2 separate regions of the Homo sapiens genome follow, and region 1 is linked to region 2. Evidence: fine-mapped expression QTL. A gene starts in region 2. The other region holds a variant in brackets. All regions are shown on one strand. Distances are between the middles of the regions.

The links. PIP is the estimated chance that this variant, and not a neighbour inherited with it, causes the effect.
Region 1: its variant is fine-mapped to the expression of DDX4 in prefrontal cortex (CommonMind, PIP 0.92).

Annotation. Positions count from the first base shown.
Region 1 is chr5:55,614,394-55,623,928 of GRCh38, forward strand. No RefSeq gene overlaps it. Among named protein-coding and RNA genes, the nearest start is that of PLPP1, 84 kb to the left of the region's middle. The variant CT/C (reference allele first, on the strand shown) is at 4,578.
Region 2 is chr5:55,733,734-55,743,268 of GRCh38, forward strand. DDX4 (DEAD-box helicase 4) reads left to right here and starts at 4,328. Exons shown (of 22, transcript NM_024415.3): 1 at 4,328-4,368; 2 at 5,217-5,299. The coding sequence starts at 5,231.

The DNA.
Region 1 (9,535 bases), 120 kb before region 2:
CAGGATGTTGGTGGGGTCAGATAAGGGAATAAAAGCAGGCTGCCGGAGCCAGCATTGACAACCCACTCGGGTCCCCTTCCACACTGCGGAAGCTTTGTTCTTTCACTATTTGCAATAAATCTTGCTGCTGCTCACTCTTTGGGTCCGCACTGCCTTTATGAGCTGTAATACTCACCGCGAAGGTCTGCAGCTTCACTCCTGAGGCCAGCGAGACCATGAACCTACTGGGATGAATGAACAACTCCAGATGCGCTGCCTTAAAAGCTGTAACACTCACTGCGAAGGTCTGCAGCTTCACTCCTGAAGCCAGCGAGACCACCAGCCCACCAGAAGGAAGAAACTCTGAACATGTCCGAACATCAGAAGGAACAAACTCCGGAAACACCACCTTTAAGAACTGTAACACTCACCGTGAGGGTCCGTGGCTTCATTCTTGAAGTCAGTGAGACCAAGAACCCACCAATTCTGGACACAACTGGACCCCTTTCGCTTGCTATTCTGTCCTATTTTTCCTTAGAATCTGGGGGCTAAACACCGGGCACCTGTCGGCCAGTTAAAAGCAACTAGCGCGGCCACCAGACTAAAGACACAGGTGTCAGGCTTTCTGGGAAAGGGCTCTGAGTCCTTACTCAGACTTGTGGGACAACCCCGCAACCAGTGGCATACCTAAGTAAGGAAATTGATACAGTAGCAAAAGGCTGGCCTCACCGTTTACAGGTAGTTGCAGCGGTGGCCATCTTAGTATCAAAGGCTATCAAACTAATGCAAGGAAAGGATCTCACCGTCTGGACTACTAATGATGTAAATGGCATAGGTGCCAAAGGAAGTTTATGGCTATCAGGCAACCGCCTGCTTAGATACCAGGCGCTATTCCTTGAGGGACCGGTGCTTCAAATACACATGTGTGCGGCCCTCAACCCTGCCACTTTTCTCCGAGAGGATGGAGAACCAATCAAGCATGACTGCCAACAAATTATAGTCCAGACTTATGCCACCGGAGAGGATCTCTTAGAAGTCCCCTTAGCTAATCCTAATCTTATATACCGATGGAAGTTGATTTGTGGATAATCGGATACGGAAGGCAGGTTATGCCATAGTTAGTGATGTTATGCCATAGTTAGTAATGTAACAGTACTCAAAAGTAAGCCTCTTCCCCGAGGAACCAGTGCCTAGTTAGCAGAACTAGTGGCACTTACCTGAGCCTTAGAACTGGGAAAGGGAAAAAGGATAAATGTGTATACAGATAGCAAGTATGCTTATCTAATCCTACGTGCCCATGCTGCAATATGGAAAAGGAATTCCTAACATCTGGGGGAACCTCCGTTAAATACCACAAGGAAATCATGAAGCTGTTGCATGCAGTGCAAAAACCCAAGGAGCTGGCAGTCTTACACTGCCAAAGCCATCAAAAAGGTGAAGAAGAAAAGGCAGAAGGAAACCATCGGGCAGATGCTGAGGCCAAAATTGCTGCCAGGCAGAACCTCCCATCGGAAATACCTACGGAAGGACCCTTGGTATAGAACAACCCTCTCCAACAGATTAAGCCCCAGTATTCCCGACTGAAACAGAATGGGGACTTTCACGGGGGCATAGTTGTCTCCCCTCGGGGTGCTTAACGACAGAGAGACAAAGAGGGAGTCAGAGAGAGAGAGAGAGAGAGAGGGCAAAAACAGAAAGTCAAAGAGAATGGGGGGGAGGACAGAAAGTCAAAGAGAGAAGGAAAGAGAGGAAGAGACAGAGACAAAGAGGAAGTCAGAGAGAAAGAGAGAGACAGACAAGGAGTCAGAGAGAGAGAAAGAGAGATAGAAGTAGTAAAGAAAAAACAGTGTACCCTATTCCTTTAAAAGCCAGGGTAAATTTAAAACCTATAATTGATAATTGAATGTCTTCTCCATGACACTCCATAACACTCCATTACCACCTTGTTGTCAGTGTAAACAAGGGCGTAGCCCAAAAACACTGAGGCACTGACAGCCCATAGCCTTCCTATCAAAAATCCTTAACCCAGCAGGTTTCCTAACAGGGGATCTAAATCTTAGTTAATTACTATACAAAGGTCCGACCAGACTTAGGAAGAACTCCCTTCAGGACAGGAAGATAGATGGTTCCTCTCAGGCAATTAAGGGAAAAAGACACAATGGGTATTCAGTAAGTGATAAGGAAACTCTTGTAAAAGCAGAGTTAGGAAAATTGCCTAATAATTGATCTGCTCAAACACGCAAGCTGTTTGCCCTCAGCTAAACCTTAAAGTACTTACAGAATCAGGAAGGAGCCATCTATACCAATTTTAAGTTAATATGGACTGAATGAGGTCTTATTAATAGCAAAGAATAATTGATATCCCAAACTTACAAGGTTTTCAACAGAAGTAAAGTTTGCTAAAAGTTAACAGTATAAAATGTGTTATCCTAACTTCAAAGCTTGTGGAAATCAGACCCTATCAGTACCCCTCAAAGCTCAAGTCAGTTAGCACAGAGCCATACAACTAATACCCCTACTTAAAGGGTTAGGAATGGCCACTGCTACAGGAACCAGAATAGCCAGTTTATCTACTTCACTATCCTACTACCACACACTCTCAAAAGATTTCTGACAGTTTACAAGAAATAACAAAATCTATCCTTACTCTACAATCCCAAATAGACTCTTTGGCAGCAGTAACTCTCCAAAACCGCCAAGGCCTAGACCTCCTCACTGCTGAGAAAGGAGGACTGTGCACCTTCTTAGGGGAAGAGTGTTGCTTTTACACTAACCAGTCAGGGATAGTATGAGACACTGCCTGGCATTTACAGGAAAAGGCTTCTGAATCAGACAACACCTTTCAAACTCTTATACCAACCTCTGGAGTTGGGCAACATGGCTTCTCCCCTTTCTAGGTCCCGTGACAGCCATCTTGCTATTACTCACCTTCGGGCCCTGTATTTTTAACCTGCTTGTCAAATTTGTTTCCTCCAGGATGGAGGCCATCAAGCTACAGATGGTCTTACAAATGGAACCCCAAATGAGCTCAACTCAAAACTTCTACTGAGGACCCCTGGATCTTTGACTGGCCTAGAGAGTTCCCCTCTGGAGGACACTACCACTGCAGGGCCCCTTCTTCGCCCCTATCCAGCAGAAGTAGCTAGAGTGGTCATTGCCCAATTCCCAACAGTAGTTGGGGTGTCATGTTTAGAGGGGGGATTGAGAGGTGAAGCCAGCTGGACTTCTGGGTCAGGAGGGGGACTTGAAGAACTTTTCTGTAGCTAGCTAGAGGTTTGTAAAATGGACCAATCAGCACCCTGTAAAATGGACCAATCAGTGCTCTGTAAAATGGACCAATCAGCAGGACATGGATGGGGACAAATAAGGGAATAAAAGCTGGCCGCCCCAGTCAGCAGCGGCAACCTGCTTGGGTCCCCTTTCACGCTGTGGAAGCTTTGTTCTTTGGCTCTTCACAATAAATCTGCTCACTCTGGATCTGTGCAACCTTTAAGAGCTGTAATGCTCACCGCAAAGGTCCGCACCTTCATTCTTGAAGTCAGCGAGACCAAGAACCCACTGGAAGGAACCAACTCTGGATGCAGGACTGCAGACACATGCCACCATGCCTGGCAAATTTTTTAATTTTTAGGAGAGATGAGGTCTTGATATGTTGCCCAAGCTGGTCTTGAACTCCTGGGCTCAAGTGATCCTCCTGCCTTGGCCTCTCAAAGTGTTAGGATTACAGATGTGAGCCACCATGTTCAGCCCTGTGCCTATTTTTCTACTGGGGCACTGAAGGATTTTACAGAGAAAGGCATAGTCAGTTTCATATTAATTAAAGATAACTCTGGCAGCACTAGAAATGATGGCTCTATCTTTGCATTTCCAACTCTAGGACAATGAGTAAAAGTTTACTGCATTGGATTGGGCTTTAATCTATCTGCAATAAAGGTTTTATATATAATACAGCACCGAGGAGTGATAAAATTATTTATGTGAATTAAGTCTTAGTTTCCTCTCCTCAAGGAGTGTCATAAATTTCTAATTTAGTTTCTAAAAAAAACTTAACATTAATCCTTTAAAGCTGGGCACTTTCGTGCAGTAGAATTAGATCCTTTCTGGAACAAGGTGGAGTATAAAGAAATGTTGCCTTACTCTAATGTTGCTCTTGGTTGTTTGTTTTATGCGTCAAGAGCCCTTAAAAGGTTCCTCATCGCTAAGATAGACTAATACTAGAAACTCTTTGAAAATTAAACCGTTCTTTGAATTCTTCAATATTGCTGAAAGTATCTCTTAAAAGACCCATACCCAGGTAAAAACTTTCCAATCTAAAAAAGAAAAATGTCCTACTTTGATCTCAACCATTACTGAATTTGTATCCCATGCTATTTTGCTAAATCCAATTTAACTGTTCCAGAAATAATGCTTAGGTTTGGTAAAAGTTGCAGTTCTTAAAGGTAGTGGAGAAACTCAGAGCTTGACATAATCAAACAAGGTGACTGAAACATTTCTTCTTATTCCTCCTTCTAACATTCCTTCCAGTTGCCCCTGCGCAGAGTGGTTTGTGGATGGTTTGCCTTAAAGCTGCTGTCAAGGCTCCTCACTTGCATGGGCTC[CT/C]TTTTTTTTTTTTTTTTTTAAACGGAGTCTCACTCTTGTTGCCCAGGCTGGAGTGTAGTGGTGCGATCTCAGCTCACTGCAACGTCTGCCTCCTGGGTTCAAGCGATTCTCCTGCCTCAACTTCCTGAATAGCAGGGATTACAGGCACCCGCCATCATCCATGCCTGGCTAATTTTTGTATTTTTAATAGAGTCTGGGTTTTGCCATGTTGGCCAGGCTGGTCTTGAACTCCTGACCTCAGCTGATCCGCCCGCCTTGGCCTCCCAAAGTGCTGGGATTACAGGTGTGAGCCACTGCACCCGGTCGGCCTCCTTTCTAATTTGGGACTCCTAATGTTGTGTATCTCCTTAAAGAGATAACTCCAAACTGTATAAGCCTCAGGCCCCACAAAACCTGAATCTACCCCTTTCACCAAGGATCTTTCTCACCTATCCTAAAGGTTCTCCGTCGGTAGGTTCTTGATTTAATGGGTTGACTGTAGCTATATTTCTACAAGTCTTCTTTTCCATGATTTATCTTAGACAGACATCTTTTTAGAAAAATCTGTTAAATAATAAAGTAATAACATAAATGAGTCACTTAGAATCCCCCATAAAACGTCATTCATGTTCATTCTGTGACCACATAACCTTATGTGATTATCATTAACCTAGGTTTTTTGTTGTCGTTTTTTTTTTTTGCTCTGTCACCCAAGCTGGAGTGCAGTAGTACAATCACAGCTCATTGCAGCCTTGAACTCCTGGCCTCAAGCGATCCTCTCGCTTTGGCCTCCTAAGTAGCTAGGACTACAGGCAAGTGTGTCACCATGCCTGGTTAACTTTCTGTTATTATTTTCAGAGACAGCGTCTCATTATGTTGCACAAGCTGGTCTCAAACTCCTGGCCTCAAGTGATCCTCCCACCTCAGCCTCCTGAGTACCTGGGATTACAAGTGCAAGCTACGGCACCCAGCTCTAACTTTTTAAAAGCAGTTTTATTTTGATAAAAATGATTCACTTTACAGAGACCTACTTACTGCAACATTGTCCTATATTCTTCTCTTCAAAACATGTGTATGATGTGGCCACAGCACAGCATTCAGTTGAGACAGGCAGCAGGAAGGGGCAATAGCCTGGCATTTCGGTGACACCTGGAAGGATGACCTGGTTGTTGATGCCTAGAGGTTGGTGAGGGATATTAAAGTGTCAGAGCCACATCTGGCTTGTTCACCACTGTATGCTCAGTGCTTAGCATAAGGTCTGGCAACCAGTCAGTACTTAGTTATTGACTGAATGACTAATATTGAACCTGCTGACCCCAATTTTATTTTGTAATGGTTTTGGGGCTATGGAACAACATCCTAGATAATAGCAATTACCTTATTATTTTCCATAAAGAATCCTGACTAGTTAATTAATTGATTAAACAAGTGTATATTGAGTGCCTACTATGACCAAACAATAGGATCACTTGGGATTGAGAGAGAGCCAAAGGAGGAAAAATCTGGAGTGTGAGCAATTTCCCATCCCCATCGCAGGCCTGTACTTTATGGCCTGAGATAAGTAAGAATGGCCAGGCGCAGTGGCTCAGGCCTGTAATCCCAGCACTCCGCAAAGCTGAGCTGGGGTGGGTCACTTGAGGTCAGGAGTTTGAGAGAGACCAGCCTGGCCAACATGGCAAAACCCCGTCTCTACTGAAAACACAAAAATTAGCTGGTTGTGGTGGCTGGCTCCTGTTATTCCATCTACTTGGGAGGCTGAAGCAGGAGAATTGCTTAAACTCGGGAGGTGGAAGTTGCAGTGAGCCAAGATTGCACCACTGTACTCCAGCCTGGGTAACAGAGCGAGACTCCATCTCAAAAGAGAATAGAGAAGTTGAAAAAGACATAGCCTTATTTTATTTTTGCCGAAGAGATGGAACATAAAAATAATACTGGGGAAGAAGTAATAGTACTTAGAGAAGGGGGAAAATTAGAGCCCTCTATTGGCTTAAGTGGCTCTGGAGGATTAGGACATCAAGCTCTTCCAGGAACTAGGCTCTACTTAACATTCATCGGAAATATTCTTAGAGGGAGAGGTCACAACAGTATATTGTCCTAAAGATATAGTCATTTTAGGTTTCAGTTAACATAATGTAATGCCTTTCTTTAGGATCAGAACACTTTGCGGGGCTCCTTGGGGCCTGATGTGAGGCACAGGGGCAAAGTCACTTGAGAAGTTTGACCCGGCGAAAGATGGAACCCAGCTTCTTCCTGACCTTGGGGCCAGTGCTACCAAGCAATAATATTTCCCAGCAAAATTCAATTAAACAAAATCCCAGAGTTGTTTTCCTTCAAATTATCTTTGATTTAATTTCTTCTTTTATATAAAAGACAACAAATTACATTTCAGAGAACAATGTTTAGGTTATAAGGTTCCCGTCAGAGCTGTTTCACAACACGTGTTTACATAATCTGAAGTGAAGGCAGCAGTGGACTGTAAAACCGGCCAGCCAGGCCAGTTTGTGTGCATCTAGGGGATTAATTTCACTTTGGGTCACAAACTAATGTAACATTCTACTGTTTAGGTGTCAACTAGATTTGGATTTGGTTTTGGATATTCTAATGGGGATGAAATTGAGTTTAGAAAAAACAAAAACCACCACCACCAGATTCTAAAAAGCAATTAGGTCAGTGCTTTGTAAAGAAAACATACAACATCAATATTTTCTGCTCTTATCAATGAGTTCAAACATTTGACACTTTGAATACTGATATTTAAATAAGTCAAATCTTTGGTGAGAAAAACTTATGCATTTTTCTGTTTGTACCACCCAATGTGTTACTAATTATTTGCCCTATTAATCCATTGTGCTTTGCTGTCCAAGATTAACAGAATAATGCAATGTGTTCAAAATGCAAAGAGAATAAATAGCATACAGAAGCATTAAACAAGTCGCAGAAAACTTATCTTAGAGGAAATTTACCAAACTAAAAGCGAATACATTTAACCTATATGATTGCATTTGCTGGTGAAGGTACCAAATATTAAATTTTGGACAGTTATGAGGAGGAACCTGAAAATGGGTCGTTGCTGCTTGACCTCTCGGCTTCTTTTATCAACCCTCCTCAAGGCTCCCAACTGAAAGGGATCTGTTTCTCTAATAGTCCTCAGTATAAATTGCTTTGCATCATAGTTAATTATATACACAGTTCCTTTACTAGATTAAAAGTTCATTTCAGATATGAATGATGTCTTATACATCTTTATCTCCTCCAAAGCACTGGACAGAAAAGTCTTTTACTTCTATAGTTAGTAGCTGCATTGCATTTGCAAAATATACTTAATATAAATAAAGTATTTCCCTTTAATATAGTCCCCTTTTATGAATAAATTTATTCCTTACATCAAAGCATTTTTTGGGTGTGATAATAAAATTGATTTTGGATGATCACCCACAGGTGTCAAACTTAATTTTCTTTGTCCTTTCTGGCTATTAGCATACCACATATTCATATATAGACTTTCTAAGGAAGACCCCTCTAAATAATCCATATTTTACTTAATAATATCCTCAGTTGTATGTTAAGCTAAATTCAAGAGTTAAGCATGAGAGCAAAAAGTGAAAGAAATTCAATTAGAAAATTCAAAGAGATGACAGCAGACAAAGAAGGTCTAAAATTAGTTGAGATATGAATGACTTCATATCTCATCATTCTAATGTGTGGGCCAGGATATACACACTTACAAAGAGTTCTCTGACCAAGCCAAATAATAGGCCAAAGAGTTGATCTCATGAAAAAAAAACTTAAGAAGGCAAAGTCATACAGCGTAAGTCTAATACAAGATTTTAGAAGTTCTAAATTATCGAGTCTTTTTTTCTTTTTTTTGAGATGGAGTTTCACTCTTGTTGCCCAGGCTGGAGTGCAATGGCACGATCTCAGCTCACTGCAACCTCTGCCTCCCGGGTTCAAGCGATTCTCCTGCCTCAGCCTACTGAGTACCTGGGATTATAGGCACACGCCACCACGCCCGGCTAATTTTGTATTTTTAGTGGAGATGGGGGTTTCTCCATGTTGGTCAGGCTAGTCTCAAACTCCCGACCTCAGGTGATCTGCCTGCCTCGGCCTCCCAAAGTGCTGGGATTACAGGTGTGAGCCACCACACCCAGCCAATTATTTTTTTCTTTAATTAAAAAAATTGTTTTTTTGAGACAGGGTCTTACTCTGTTGCTCAGGCCGGAGTACAGTGGCACAATCAGGGCTCATTGATGTCCTGGGCTCAAGCAATCCTCTCACCTCAGCTTCCTGGGTACCTGGGACTACAGCTGCATGACACTGTGCCCAGCTAATTTTTTTTAAATTTATTTTTTTGTAGAGACAGGGTCTCACTATGTTGTCCTGGCTGGTCTTGAACTCCTGGGCTCAAGTGATCCTCCCACCTCAGTCTTCCAAGAGCTGGGATCACAGCTGTGCCCACATCAAGTCTTTTCGTTTTGTTTTGTTTTTTGAGATGGAATTTCGCTTTTGTCACCCAGGCTGGAGTGCAGTGGCGTGATCTTGGCTCACTGCAACCTCCGCCTCCTGGGTTCAAGCAATTCTCCTGCCTCAGCCTCCTGAGTAGCTGGGATTACAGGTGCACGCCACCACGCCCAACTAATTCTTGTATTTTTAGTAAAGACGGGGTTTCACTGTGTTGGCGAGGCTGAGTCTTGAACTCCTGGCCTCATGTGATCCGCCCACCTTGGCCTCCTAAAGTGCTGGGATTACAGGCATGAGCCACCATGCCCGGCCTCACATCAAGTCTTTTAAAGAAACAATAGCAAAGATTCACATTGTCTTTTAGTTTAGTAAATACCTCATTCATTGTCATATTCACTTAGTTCATTAAATGGACAAAAATATATTAAATCATTTTTTCCATGTGTTAAAACATTCAAGTACATTATTGAAAAGTGGCAATGAAACTCTGTCTCCACCTCTCAAAGAACTGGGATGACAG
Region 2 (9,535 bases):
TATTGCCCTAGCCATTACTGGAAAAATAAAATACGTAAGTTTCTCTGAATCCTAGTTGGTGTGTTGAACACCTCTGTTGAATTTCTTCCTCAGGTGTGTACTAGCGTCATGGTATCTTGTACCATCATTGTACCCACCCCCTCTATTTTGTGTTGATTTTACAGGGCTCCAACCTACAGTATTTTATTCTATTTTATTTTTTTGAGATGGGGTCTTGCTGTGTTGCCCAGGCTGGAGTGCAGTGGTGCAATCTTGGCTCACTGCAACCTATGCCTCCCGGGTTCAAGTGACTCTCGTGCCTCAGCTTCCCGAGTAGCTGGGATTACAGATGAGCATGCCCAGCTAATTTTTGTATTTTTACTAGAGGCAGGGTTTCATCATGTTGGCCAGGCTGGTCTTGAACTCCTGACCTCAAGTGATCCACCCACCTCAGCCTCCCAAAGTGCTGGGATTATAGGCGTAAGCCCCCATGCCCCGCCTTCAACCTACAGTATTTGAAAGATAAAATATGAAATTTTATCTTTAGTATTTGTGATTTTGTGCATAGTAAGAGATTCTCAAATATTTGTGTACCTAATATTCTTGAATATTTTCTAACTATTCTCAAATATTTATAGTACCTAAGAATGAACATATACTCTACCATTTGAGGTGATTAATTTTGGCCTACTGGTGGATTAAAAGAATTTTTAACAGTGTCGACATGACGCTAGACACAATCCACATCAATAAAAAATCATTATTTGAATAAGACGAAGATAATGCTGAAAATATAAAAAGACTAAAATATCAGTTCTCTCTATTTGTATTAACTTTGAGAATTCAGTGTTTCAAAAGTGTGAAGGGTCTTAACTACAAACTTTGATTTAAAACTGAGACTTCTTTGAGGAAATTGTTTTGCTTTAATCCGTCCTTCTAAAAATGGGATTTAGAGAATTTGGAGGAAACTGTATACAATAAAGTTTTTTTTTTCACCTAAGCTTTCTAGTTAATCATTTGACACAGCAGTCTGAAGATTTTAAATTCCAGTTGCCACTGCCATTCTTTCCACTAGAATGTTGCTTGAGATATGGGCCAATTTTACTTAGCACCTAGCCTGGTACCTGGTGTATAGTAGGTGCTCATTTAAGGCTTATTTTACAACTAAGCGAATTCCTACCTTTTCTCTATGTTACAGAATATCACTAACACCAAGTTAAGATCTATAAGAGGGAATCAGAAAATAGAATATTAGTTTCACTTTCTTGGAACACACATGAAGGAGCAAATCTTTACAAAACTGTCTTTTTTCACTATTCATGGTCAATATTTGAATTATATTATTTTTATGCACTGCTTATTTATCCTTTCCTCAATATTGAACTTCAGTTCTCATCAGAATTCGCTTTTTCTTAACCAAGGATTCCTCTCACACACTATACATGCAGACTTTTTCATTAAGTCATTTTATTGCAATACCTGAAAGCAACAAGAATCTGTACTCTCCAAGTGAGTGAATAGCAGAGAATGTTTGCTAAGTGATTTTAAAAAATGTCTTCATTTTAGAAAATTTGCCCAAGTTTTCCATACTTGAAAAAAAACCTAGTTGTCATTCTCTCTACATGATTTTATATCTTGCTTTTTCTGCTTAGTAAATATTTTCCCATAGAATTAAAAATTTTGCAGGAACAATCTCTAATTTGAATTGAATTAATTTAATTCAATTGAATTGAATTAAAATACCTCAGAGGAATACAAATTCAGAACCTTGAAGATTGGTTGCTGTCCTCCACCATGCCTTGAGGGTATGTGATGTGAAAATTTGGTTTAAAAATGGAAATTATTTAAAATGAATTATATCAAACTGTATTTTGGTTTGGCCTTTGTTAAATATAATCTTTTTTTTTTTTTTTTTGAGCCGAGTCTCGCGATCTCAGCTCACTGCAATCTCTGCCTCCTGGGTTTGAACAAGCTATTCTCCTGCCTCAGCCTCCGAAGTAGTTGGGACTATGGGTGCGTGCCACCACACCCGGCTAATTTTTTGTATTTTCAGTAGAGACGGGGTTTCACCGTGTTAGCCAGAATGGTCTTGATCTCTTGACCTCGTGATCCACCTGCCTCAGCCTCCCAAAGTGCTGGGATTACAGGCGTGAGCCTCTGTGCCCAGCCTAAATATAATCTTTTAAGGTTGGGTGTGGCAGCTTATGGCTGTAATCCCAGCACTTTGGGAGGCTGAGGCAGGAGGCTCACTTGAGGCCAGAAATTGGAGACCAGCCTGGGCAACACAGGGAGACTCTTGGGAGGCTGAGGCAGGAGGCTCACTTGAGGCCCGGAATTGGAGACCAGCCTGGGCAACACAGGGAGACTCTTTCTCTACAAAATTTTTTTTAAAAATTAGCTGGGCATGGTGGCTTGTGCCTGTAGTCCCAGCTATTCGGGAGGCTGAGGTGGCAGGATCACTTGAGCACAGGAGGTTGAGGCTGCAGTAAGCTATGATCATTAGTGCACTCCCCTCTGGGTGACAGAGTGAGACCTTGTCTCAAAAATAAATAAATAAATAAATAAAAAATATATTCATTTTGATCATCTTGAGAATAGTCTGACAAAGTTTATTGCTAACTAGATGAATCCTGAAATTCTTGGTGGTGATGGTTCTAGAGATAAAAAGTATGAAGCAAGCCTGAGCCTATTAAGTGCTTTATCCTTTATGTACCAGTATCAAACTGTGTTGCTATTTATGTTCCTGAATGAGATAGGAATTTCTTCAGATTCAGAGAAGGGAAAATGACAGAAACGACAACAAAAATGAGAACTACACTTTTTTTTTTTTTTTTTTTTTTTGAGGCGGAGTCTCGGTCTGAGGCCCAGGCTGGAGTGCAGTCGCGCGATCTCGGCTCACTGCAAGCTCCGTCTCCCGGGTTCACGCCATTCTCCTGCCTCAACCTCTGGAGTAGCTGGGACTACAGGCGCCCGCCACCACGCCCGGCTAATTTTTTGTATTTTTAGTAGAGACGGGGTTTCGCCGTGTTAGCCAGGATGGTTGCATCTCCTGACCTCGTGATCCGCCCGCTTCGGCCTCCCCAAGTGCTGGGATTACAGACAGACGTAAGCCACCGCGCCCGGCCTCTGAGAACTACACTTTTAAAACAGCCCATGGTCACGCGTTTTGAAGGGCTGGGGAAATACTGAGGGATTTTACCTGCTTTTGGGGTGGGGGGTGGGGGCAGAACAAGAAAATCTGATTGAAGACAGCATGAAGTATCAAAATAACCCTTGGCCACTTTGGCTAGTGCCCGTAGGAATATAAACAGGTGGGCCACAAATCCAAGCCTTGATGAATGACCTATGCCAGCACCAATTTCCTCCCTCCTTCTGGATCAGAGCCTGTTTCCTTCCAAAGTGGTGGACCCCCGAAATCTTACAGGCTTTTTTTTTTTTTTTTTTTTCCTCTGTCTCACTCTGTCGCCCAGGTAGAGATCAATGGCATGATCTCGGTTCATTGCAACCTCTGCCTCCCGGGTTCAAGCGGTTCTCTTGCCTCAGCCTCCTGAGTAGCTGGGACTACAGGCAGCCGCCACCATACCCGGCTAATTTTTTTAATTTTAGTAGAGACGGGGTTTCACCATGTTGGCTAGGCTGGTCTCGAACTCCTAGCCTCATGTGATCCGCCCGCCTCGGCCTCCCAAAGTGCTGGGATTACAGGCGTGAGTCACCATGCCCAGCCGAGTCTAACTTTCTTTACGATTTCCTGGGGTCCCAGCTGGACGGAGTCTCATCCCTGCCCCCCTTACTGGGAGGAAAAGGGAATGCACCTCCTCCATGAGCCTCAGCTGCACTTTGAGGCACCTGGAATCCCCGGATGTGGAGCGAGTCTCTGAAATGCAGAACCCGAGGGGCCAACCCATGGACTGTGATGGGTAAAAGGGGAGAGAGCACTAAAGAGGCCAAGTAGGGAGGACATTATCCCTTTCCCCTTTTATTATTATTTTTTGTTAGAAAAAGGCAGGTGGACATATTTAGCTTGCGAAGCTTGCACAAGGAAAATCCAGAGCGTCTCCAGAATAAGGATCCCACGAGAGAACGTGGACACAAGTAGGCCCTCAGCCAGCCTTGTACCCACAGGCCCAACAGGCCACTTGGCTATGAGGCCAGAGCGTCGCCATAGGGGCCCGAACGCTAGCGTTTAGGGAATCCGCAGGCTAGAAGTGGAGGCGGGACGCCACTGGTCGTCTGAGCGCTGATTGGCTGGTGGCGCTAGTCACCAGCCAATCGTCAACAGACGCCATTTGTTGTTGGAGCCACGCACCTGACGCAGTGGGCGTCTTGCACGTGCAGCCGTTTAAGTCGCGTGGGCGCCTGCGAGGGCTTGGGAGAGCAAGCCGCGGAGAGGTGAGTGGGCCGCTTTTCTACGGGAACTGGCCTGAACTCGGCCGTACGGGCTCCCCAGTAACCGACCTTTGGCCAAAGTGTGGATGGAGTAGGAGGAGTTTTGAAGCCGTCCTTCGAAGCCTTTCTGCCTCGGGGTCTCAGAGTCCCACGGGTGCCCAAAGTCTGGGCTTGAGGCCTGCAGAGGAGGCGAAGGGGCCTTATTCCTGGCTTCTTCACTGCGTTTTCTCTGAACAGACATGGTCCGAGTACCATTTGTGTACAAATCCTTCTTGATGAAGCTGGTTGTCCTTTGTCGGCAGGATTTGGGCAACCATACCCTTCTTCCCTTCCCCACTAAAATCCAAGGCCTCCCTCTTCACCGAGTCGCCGCCCCCCTACCCAGTCGACTCCCGTACCCCTGTCCCCGCCCCCACGCACGCCACAAACACCCCAAAGCAAACATCCTATCCACCTTGGATGTTAATCATGCGAAGGGAGAAATCTTAAGTAGTTTCTGAAAAAAGTTGCCTCTCCCTTAATATTCAGTAAGTCGTTTGGGGACCCTTTGAGGGAGGAGATAAAGTCTATGAACAGATGTTTGGGAAAAGCCTAAGTCTTGCTGGGGACATGGCGATTGCTAGAATGACTAGGTAAGAGGTTCAACTAGTTTCTAAAGCTAAGAAAGGATGGAGATAAATGCCACCTTTAGATAAGAAGAGACCTAATTCCTTCTTTGGAAAAAACTTTTGGGGTATCAGCACCTAGTTGGGTAGTTTCAAGATGTATGTGAAACAATGAGTTTATGCTTTTAAAGTTATGATTCTGATCTAATTGAGTCCAAATGTGCATTTTTTTTTTTTTATGAATAGAACTTGAAGCCACCATGGGAGATGAAGATTGGGAAGCAGAAATCAACCCTCATATGTCTTCCTATGTTCCCATATTTGAGAAGGTAATAACATTTAAAGTTTAGTTATTAAATGCTACGGATTTTATCAAAGTTGAAAATCACTGTGGTGAGAGTTCTAAATTATACAGTCTGTGTCAGTGTTTATCTCCATGTGATTGTTATTAACTATTATATGGGGAATAAGAGACAACCTAAGCCTCGTATAGGATACAATAGCTTGAGGCAATTTGATAATTAAAAGCTAAAATAGATGTAAAAATATTAATGACCTAATTTAAATCTCAATGATTTAGGACTTCCTCAGGTGAAAGCAAACTTGGGCAAATGTGGTTGATATCAGTGAAAGACGCTTGTATGGAAAATTGAAAACAATAATTACGTTTTGGGAGATATTTTAAATTCTGAAAATTGATTTTGTGCAAGGAGGGTTCTCAGGATAAATGATACTAGGCTGATTGAGTTGGTAACATCAGTTTGTATGAATCTTCAGATCTTTTTTCTTAATGGCATTTGGGGAGTTACATTGTAATTTAGGGGACAGTGGGGTAAGTTTTTTGGGCTTCAGTTCTGACTTGGAAATTGGCTTTAAAAAGATGAATAGAAGGTACTTTAAAAGATAATAGATTATTTTTGCATGTGTTACTTACTATATGGTGTCTCTACAAGTTGATTTTTTTGTTCCCCTTCAGAATTTCCAGTTTGAGTGTATGTCAGTTCTGACACTTTCTGATTTCAAGTTTTGCCTTAGTGGAAGTTCTTATTTTAGACAAAAATATAAAATATGCAATCTTTTGTCTTAGTTGAATTTGATCTATATGTGAAGTTTATATTAAAATACCCAAAATACTAATATAAATTTATCATGTTTCTTTTCTTGGAACTTTTTAAAAGAAATAACATGTTACCTTTTTTTTTATTTTTTAAAATTTTTGTAGAGATGAAGTCTCACTATATTGCCCAGACTGGTTTCCAACTCCTGAGTTCAGGCGACATTCTCAAAGTGTTGGGATTACAGGCGCAAGCCATTGCACCTGGACTGTGTTATCTTTTTATAGTTCTCTTCTCATAATAAAAATATAGCTTTTTTGGGAAAAGTGGAGAAAGTCACCTACAAATCTTGCCCAATAGACAAGCACTCCTGTTAAAATTTTTAGTCAATTTTCTTCTGTTTTTTCCAAACATTTTTTGTTTGTTTTTGATACAGTGTCTTGCTCTGTCACCCAGGCTGGAGTGCACTCATGCAGTGTGGGCTCACTGCAGCCTCTGCCTTCTGGGTTCAAGCAATTCTCCTGCCTCAACCTCCCTCAGCGAGACTACAGGCGCATGCCACCACGCCCAGCTAATTTTTGTATTTTTAGTAGAGATGGGGTTTCCCCATGTTGGCCAGGCTGGTCTTGAACTCCTGATCTCAGGTGATTCACTCACCTGGGCCTTCCAAAATGCTGGATTACAGTCATGAGCCACCGTGCCCAGCCCAAACATGTTTTATATAGTTTTGATGATAGTATATAACAGTAATTTTTTTTTTTTTTTGAGATGGAGTCTCACTCTATTGCCCAGGCTGGAGTGCAGTGGTGCAGTCTCAGCTCACTGCAACCTCTGCCTCCTAGGTTCAAGCGATTTTCCTGCCTCAGCCTCCCAAGTAGCTGGGACTACACGTGTGTGCCACCACGCCCCGCTAATTTTTTTTTTTTTTTTTTTGTATTTTTAGTAGACACAGGGTTTCACTATGTTGGCCAGGCTGGTCTCAAACTCCTGACCTCAGGTGATCCTCCCACTTTGGCCTCCCAAAGTGCTGGGATTACAGGCATGGGCCACCACACCCAGCCATATAACAGTAACTTTTGAATCCATCTTTCTTGACACTTCAGCACTAACTATTCCATATTACAACTTTTGTGGGAATTTCAGTGGTGTTAGCTTCTCACTGTGTATTGTCATTAATGTTTACATCTTACTTGTTTTAATTTGGTAATTTTTTTCAAAAATGGAATTACTTGTTCAGAGGACATTTTTTATCATTCTTTTTCCTCCTTGTTCTCAATAGATTTGTTATAACACAAAGTTTAATTCACAGATAGATACTTTATTCCCCCTGGTCTTAATAGCCATCTGTCCAATTTCTTTTTTCTTAGTTTGAGATTTTTGTCTTCATGAAGTGTTTAAGCAGCACACTGCACTATAGCGTGTTGTGCATATTTATTGCATTGGGTTTCTGAAATTAAGGATGACTGTCAAATCTTTCAAATTTCCCTTTTTGGGATCTTTATGCTATTCAATAACATAGTTTCTTCACATTGGGAATACTAAATTGAATATGTTGACCAGTCTACCTTATGATGCTTAATACATTTGTGTTGGGTGAATTTGTAGTGTATCTTTTGCATTTGTCTGCAAACTTAACACCTGGTGTTGTGCTGGTTGTGCCATTAGTTCTATGCTTAGTTGACTCGAAGGAACATGGTGCAATCAGGATCTTTATTTGCCTTCCTAGGTTGAATAAAAAGTGCAGGATGGCCAGGTGCGGTGGTTCATGCCTGTAATCCCAGCACTTTGGGAGGCTGAGACAGCCAGATCACTTGAGGCCAGGAGTTCGAGACCAGCCTGGCCAACATAGCAAAACCCCTTCTCTACTAAAAATACAAAAAATTAGCTGGGAGTGGTGGCACACGCCAGTAGCCTCAGCTACTTGGGAGGCTGAGGCAGGAGAATCTCTTGAAATTGGGAGGTGGAGACTGCAGTGAGCCAAGTCCGGGCAGCTGCACTCCAGCCTGGGCAATGGAGCAAGACTCTGTCTGAAAAAAAAAAAAAGTGCAGAAACTAGAGATGAATACATTACATTTTTATGTAGAACAAATCTAAAGTCTTTCATTCCGTTTCTTTTAAAGACACCATTTTGATTTGTTCTAACTGAATTTGGTTTTCAAGAAAAAGCTGGCCTTCTCTTTTATAGCGGCTTTATCTGTGATCATCCTTTTCTGAGTGCTTCTCAGGAGCTTTATTTGGAGACTTAATGTTGACATACGCTTATATAATTTTGAAATAATTTGTCATTGTTCTAGTATAACAGATAGAATTTTGGGTAGAACTTCTCAATTCTAAATTTTAAAGTGAGTGTACCACCTGGGAATAGAACAGCGAAAGATGTGAAGTTAAGAAAGATTTTATAATGTGGCAATTATATAGTCCAGAAATCTCAACCATTAGGCATTTGCACGTTGCCTGCAGGCTTATTGGGGTGAGTGTTAGAATGGATGGGTATGGTGAGTGTATTAGATAATTCCGTTGCTTACTTACTAGCTGTGAGGCCTCTTGTTAACTGACCGTGAATGTAAGCCTGTATAGTGATCACTTCTGTCTGATCTATTTGCCATTTTTGTGGCACATTTCAGAAGGCAAAATCTCTTGTGGTTAAAGTGGAAACAGTAATTGAGTAATTAGACCATCCACAATTATAATTTTATTAAGCAGCAGTAGCAATGTTAGCAATAATTGTTGAGATAAGAAAATAAACATATATATGATATTACAAAATTGAAAGTAAGAATACAGGTGAAAAAAATGTGTTCATCAAAATGCAAAAGGATTATTTGTAGCTGCATGTGAGAACACTTATGTGTTAAACATTCGAAATTTCTGAATTGGTGCATTTGGGTGGTTTGAGAGATAATAATGGTTTACAGCTAAGTATTTTAAGAGGTAAGCTAAAGACAAGACCTATGATTCATTCAACATATTTTTGAGTTCTAGTAGGTGCTGGAGAGAGAGTGGTGAATATAAGGTGCTTGCTGTTACATTGTATTTTACTGGAGAAGACAGAATAAGCGCGTTTGAGAACCAAATAATTATAGTGAAAAGTACTATAAAAAATTAGAGAAATGTGTGTGTGAGACTGGTGTGGGGTGGATTTAGTTGGAGAGGGAAGGCTTCTCTCAGACAGTGACTCATGAGCCTGAGACTTAAAGGAGTCCCAGCAGGACATCAGGTGCAAAGGTTCTCAAGGAACCTTTGAGAAGGAGGAGGGAACAAACTTGGGGTATTAGGGCAACAAGAAGGCCAATGTGTTAGTTTTCTGTGGCTGCTATAACAAATTAACACAAACTGGGTAACTTAAAGCAACATAAATTTATTCTCATAGTTCTGGAAGCCTGAAGTTAAAAATCAAGGTGTCAGCAGCGCTGCCCTCCCTCTGGAGGTTCTGGGACAGAATCTTTGCTTCTTCTAGCTTCTAGTGGCTAAGGGCATTCCTCGGCTTGTGGCTGCATATCTCTTAGCTCT